2 linked regions of the Homo sapiens genome follow. The protein of the gene in region 2 interacts with the protein of the main gene of each other region in a pairwise test. Each region holds a gene or a part of one and is shown on either strand. Other genes may lie near its edges.

The links.
Region 1: the proteins of COL10A1 (region 2) and VSNL1 interact in a two-hybrid assay, tested with the Homo sapiens proteins (one large-scale study listed by BioGRID and IntAct).

What each region holds. Positions count from the first base shown.
Region 1 is NC_000002.12:17,651,865-17,655,695, reverse strand, and holds part of VSNL1 (visinin-like protein 1), read right to left. Parts: intron 500-3,831; coding exon 302-499; 3' UTR 1-301.
Region 2 is NC_000006.12:116,120,771-116,123,463, forward strand, and holds part of COL10A1 (collagen alpha-1(X) chain precursor), read right to left. Parts: intron 1,192-2,693; coding exon 1-1,191.

The sequences.
Region 1 (3,831 bases), on a different chromosome or scaffold from region 2:
TTGCAGCACATTTCTGCCCAGGCTTTGGAGGAAGAGGGATTTTTATGAAATGATATTACACATATCACATTGTGGCAGGTTGTTTGTTTTGTTTTATATATGCTTTTAAAATTCATTAGCAAATGACATTCTCATGCACACGAGTGTTTCAAACACAAGAAGCAAGTCCATTTATAGGTAGTCCAAGCAATATTTGTGTGTGTGTGTGTGTGTGTGTGTGTGTGTGTGTGTGTGTGTGTGAATAGCTGCAGACTGAATGGAACATTGAGACTTTTGTGCAGTCCATAGCATTGACATCAGCTCATTTCTGGATGTCGCACTGCAGAAGTAATACAATGGAAGGGTCGCTCTTTGCAGCTTCTTTGAATTCATCCAGTGTAATCTGGTCATCTTTGTTCTTATCCATCTTGCTGAAAATCTTGTCTACTCGCTGCTCAGGCGTCAGGCCATCCTCATTCATTTTCATCATGATCACAGTGCCTACCATTTTGTAGATAGCCTTGGGGAAAAAAGCATTGTAGGTGATATTACCAGAAACCCAGGAGGACAGAGAGCTCTTCTTGCCTCCCTTTCACCTGACGGGATCCCACCCATCCTCCAAGCCTCAGCTTCCCTTTCCCCAGAGGAGTTTCACTCCTTGTGCTGCAAGTTTCTGTGACAACCCATACCATTTCCCCCAACAGAATACATCTCACCTTTATTAAAATAACTGCTTTGTCTTCCCCACTAAAGAGTATGTTCTATGGAGCTAGGAAGCACGTGCTCCTGTAAGTCCAGGGCTTGGTATGATGCCTGGCACATCACAGGTCTCAATAAATACTGATCAAATGAAAAAGCTTTAGCTGCTGGAGCGTGGGATGTGGGGCAAGGGGCAGTAGGAGGGAGGGCCAGGTGAAGTGTTGAAAGATGAAGCTGGAGAGAGGGAAATGAGAAGCAGATCACCGAGTTTTCCTAGGATAAGATAAAGAATTTAACTTTATTTCAAATAAGTCCTTAAATGCTATTGAATAAGAGATGACATAATCAAATATGGGTGAGCCTTGTGACCAACTGGATATAGAAGAATTTGGGGTGGCTTCCAGGTTTTTGGCTGGAGGAAGTGGTTAGAAAGGGTGGCTCAATGGTGAGATTAGAAATAATGGATTAGGAATAGGTTCAGGGAGGAACATGATGGGCTCAGTTTTAAACATTCTGCATCTAGGTGCAGGAAACAGTCAAAAAGCACTAGCCTTGGGGATTTAGGAAAAGAAGAATTGTGGGGCCAACTGATTAGAAACTTAGAATCTAGTAAGACAACCAAGCCAGTTGTACCATTAAAATTGAACTCTGCAAGAAGTTAGTTTAGGGAGAGTTGTGGAGCAGGGACTCTGTTTATAAGTTAAAGAATAGAGTGAGAAGATTTCAATTATCCAGACCAACTAACTGTATACAATTAATTCTTGATATGAAATTTCCAAAGTATAAATTATTTCCTTTCTTAGAAAAGTGCTTTAAAAATAAATGCCCATCTATACAAAGACTTGCATGAGAACATTCATAGCAGTATTATTAATAGCCAAAATGTGGAAATGACACAAGTGCTCATCAACTGTAAACAAATAGGATACAGCTATACGGTAAAAAAATATATACTATTTTAGCAACAAAAGAGAATGAATATGCTACAGCATGGATAAATCTCAAAAATATAAAGAAGCCAGACATGTAAGGCCACATGTTATGTGATTCCATTTGTGTCAAATGCCCAGAAAGGGAGCCAAATCCATGGAGACACAGTGATGTGTTGGTTGCCTGAGCCTGGGGTGGGAGCGGGCCTTTGGGCATGAGGGATCTAACTGGGGGAATAAAAATGTTTTAAATTTACATTATGGTGATGGTTGCATATCTCTGTACACTTAGTAAAAATCATTTAATTTGTACACTTAACATGGGTGAATTTATGGTCTGTAAGTTATAACTCATAAAGTTGTTTTTAGAAATGCCAATCAGAGCAAACCACTAACTAGAAAGTGCTTTATTTAACAAGTTAAAATGTCCACTGAGATAAAATATTTTGTGCGTATTTACTTTTGTAGCTAGATGGTATTGATGTATCATGGAACACTTTAAGAAAGTTGTCTCTAAAAGAGGCAGACTTTCCGAAATTTCATTTTGTGGATAATTGGTAGACAAGGTCCTGATTAGTCTAGTAGCCAGAGTGGTGCACAAAGGAAAAGCACGGAATGTGTACTGTCTGGAATTTAAAAAGAGACAAATGGCCCGTACACATGTAAGCTGCCACTCTCACCCTGGCCTTTAAAAGGCGAAATCAAAAGCCCTTACATGAGGCAGTGGGTATGAAGGCAGCAAAACAAGTGCACTATTAATAAAGTCAGGGTAATAAGAAATGTAAACACAAGAAGTCCCTCCTGGACCTCAGGAAGCAACTCTGAAAATGGCAGGATCTCATTAATCGTATCCATGACACAGCCCTACAATTGGGACTGTGAACACGACAACCAAGAAGGGCCGTTTCAGATGCAGACTTTTACATATCACAAAGGCCGGGCATGCCAGACTCGGAACTCCGTGTGAAACTGCCCCTGTGGTCCCCAGCCCTGATGGACCTGTACTGACTTGCCTTTCACTGTAAACTAGAAAACTGGATAAAAATAAAAGAAATAGCTGTTTTCAGACTTTACAACTGACAGTGCAAGACTGTAATTCCTAAGAGGTGGGAAACAAAGTAGATGAACCCTATGATCTCAGCCCAGAGTCCTTCCTGGACCGCAGCACAAGGAGAAGGGTCCCAAGCAGGGCTGACTCACCAACTGGAGGAGACAACAATTGGAGGAGGAAGGTGAAGATAGCCAGAAATTTCGGGGCAGAGGACCAGAGAGGGAGCCAGGCAGAAAGAAAGCCTCAGAAATCTGCCTAGGAGGACTCCTCAATGTTTATCTGGAAACTAGGCTGCACACAGAGGATAAAAGTTCACAAAGAAGTTTCTGAACAATAAGCTGAACAACTCTTGGTGCTCACACAGGCTTGCAGAGCATTCTAGTTCTTAATGCAAAGAGCTTGCTAAATACCTTGGCATTCAGGAAGCCTGTTGTCCATTCTTCTTCTTTTTAAAGCAAAGCTTCTGGCAAGAGTTTTCTGCAGTCACTGTCTTTACTTCTTCCTCTCCCATTCTCCTGGGCTGCTCTATTTAGGATTTTGCCACCAACTCCTCTGAAACTATTCTCAGCTGGTTCACCTATGGCCTCCAGGTTTCCAATTCCAATTGTCAGTGATTACTTTTCTCCTTTTACTTCTTTTATCAATAGCATTTGACATGATTGCACATTCCATTCCTTCCCCACAAAACAGTGTGTTTCCCTTCCAGGACTTCTCACTTTTCCTTTTTTACTTTGACCTTTCTGGCAATTCTTTCTCCATCTCCTTTACTGATTGTGCCTCATGTTCCTCACCTCTAAACATCAGGTTGCCCCAGGACCTCAGTCCTCTGGAAACCTCTTTTCTATTTATATTCTCTGTCTAGTTATACTCTGATATGTCCTCTTTCACTTAAATACCTGAATAAGTATCACAACACATGGGGCTGGTTCCCACCAGCCAGAGTAGAGAAACCTCACTAAATGTATGAGAAAATCAGTAAGAACCCCAAAATGGTCACAAATTGGGCACTGGGCTAACTTACTACAGAAAACCTACTCTCCATCTGCTCTAAAAGCTTAAAATTATAAAACTGCCTCGAAAAGATCACGCTAATTTACATATAACTTACCTGCCTGTCAAAACTAATCTCAGCACTCTATAAATGAAGACAACAAAATACAGACACTCTAATGC
Region 2 (2,693 bases):
CTGGTATTCCAGGGGCACCTCTTGGGCCAGCCTCTCCATTGTGTCCGGGCATTCCCTTTGCTCCTGCTGGGCCCACAGGGCCTGGGAGACCAGGAGGTCCTCCAACTCCAGGATCACCTTTTGGACCTGGTAACCCTGGGTTACCCTTAGGACCATCGAGACCTGGTTTTCCTGGGTACCCTGGTTTTCCATCTGACCCAGGGGAACCCCTTTCACCCTTAGCCCCAGGGTATCCTGCAGGCCCAGCTGGCCCTGTCTCACCTTTAGGGCCTGGGAGACCATGGCTACCCGGGATGCCTTTTGGTCCTTGGGGTCCCATATTCCCAGGGGGTCCAGTCAGACCTGGCTTCCCAGGAAGACCTGCTGGCCCTTGTTCCCCTTTGGCACCTGGACCCCCAGGAAGGCCAGCAGGTCCTCTTTCTCCCTTCAGGCCTGGCAAGCCTGGTTTCCCAAAGCCAGGAGGCCCTGGGGGCCCAGCTATTCCTGGAGCCCCAGGGAGACCTTTTGTTCCTGGAATCCCTGGCTGGCCTGGGGCTCCAGCAGCTCCTGGCTTTCCAATGCCTTCTGGCCCTCGTTCCCCAGGAGGGCCTTGGGGACCTGGTGGGCCAATTGGTCCCATTTCTCCCGGAAAACCTCTATCACCTTTGATGCCTGGCTGTCCTGGAACCCCATTTTCACCTCTTTTTCCCACTCCAGGAGGGCCAGATGGTCCTGTGGGACCCTGAGGGCCTGGAAGACCCCTCTCACCTGGACGACCAGGAGCACCATATCCCATTTCCCCTTTCTGTCCATTCATACCAGGGACTCCTGGTGCACCCTTTTCTCCAGGAAAGCCCCTGGGTCCTGGGGCTCCTGTGGGTCCCTGTTGTCCAGGTTTTCCTGGCACAGAAATTCCAGCCGGTCCAGGGATTCCAGGTGGTCCTGGTGGGCCCCGGGGTCCTGGTAGGCCAGCTGGTCCAACATCTCCTTTTGGTCCATATGGTCCTCTCTCTCCTGGTTTTCCTGGGAGTCCTGGCACACCTGGTTTCCCTACAGCTGATGGTCCCGGTGGTCCTGGCAACCCTGGCTCTCCTTGGAGTCCAGGACTTCCGTAGCCTGGTTTTCCTGGTGGTCCAGAAGGACCTGGGTGCCCTCGAGGTCCAGCAGGGCCTGGTGGACCAGGAGTACCTTGCTCTCCTCTTACTGCTATACCTAAAAGACACACCCAACACACCCACCCATAGAAGGGGATGGTTAGTGACATTAAAGAGAATCATTGCCTTTCAAACTATGAATTGGGACACGATATTTCAGCATCATTTATTCCATGTAGACAGAACAGTCTGAAATGGTTTTAGATTATATGTTTTATACTGTTTTAAAAAATTCTGCTGGAGAAGATGGTTTCACAAAACCATGGCTACCATAATACTTTTATCCCATGACAGTGATTCATGAAAATGAGCTAGGATTGAAGAATTCCTCTAGAATAAGTGCAGTGGAGGTAAATTTAGTACATTTATTTTGGGAAAATCATGTACAGAAAAGGCAGAAAAAGACAGTGCAGAATAAGTGAGAAAATGTTTAAGAACTATAAAAATTTTCCCTCCCAAAGCTACCCTGTCAGACATAAAAGAGAAACAGAATTAATTCTGATTTACATCTGCCATGCCTCTGCTGAACACAGGTTAGATTTTGGTTGATTTACTTTTACCTCAGAATATACTCTGAGCTCTTATACTCTCCATTATTGACTTAAAATTGAAACAAAGAACTAGAGAATTAGACATAATAGGTGAGGTACATAAAATAGTATTAAAGTTCTTACCTAAATACAAATATATAGTGTTTGATTTCATAGAGCTGTGAGTTCACTTGACCTGATAAACTAAACTTAAACTAAAAATCATAGTGCCTGTGATGTGAAAAATGCGGCTGGGCCACAAGTATGGGGAAAGCACAGGGTACAGATGTTTCTGAGATTTGGAAAACATTTGGTGTATATAAATGCAGAGCGAATCATTAAAATAGATATGCCGAAATAGGAAAATAATTGTTTCAGATTTAGATTTTTTTTTACTAATTAGAGTTATATTTCAATTTGAAAACATTGATTAATATAAATACATAGAGCTTTCCCCATGGATTTTCAGAAAATGACATCAGGAAAAAGACTGTGAGAAAAATTTATGTAAAAGATTTCCGTATATTAAATATTTCATTGATTGTAGTGTACATACATGATTATATTATGTATAAGTGGATATTGATATATTGCAAATAGAGGAATAAATAAGGAATTTTTTAATGGGTTGGAGGAATAAAATAGTGGATTTTTTAAAATGCCAACTATGTTAGATTGAGCTTTGCTTTAGAATCTGATTATAAGGGTCATGTTCACACTAAAAATAATTGTCTTAGTCTGATTGGAAATCTGTTTTACTATTAAAAAGGAGAAACAAGTCAATGGAAATGAGTGCATTGGGCGTCATCCGAGACTGGAACTCCAGTGACAGGGCGAACTTTGTCACTTGGAATGTTGTCCTAATGGGTCTCAACTTCTCAGTGCGAGAAAGAATTTGGCTTCTATTGAATGCTTGGGGGACAGCCCCTGTTTGTAGGTTGTCATCTGAAAAAATTTTCTTCATTCAAGATTAGGGTGGCACAATCCTCAAGGTAAAACGACTACTTCCTTCTATTAAGTTTTTTAAATG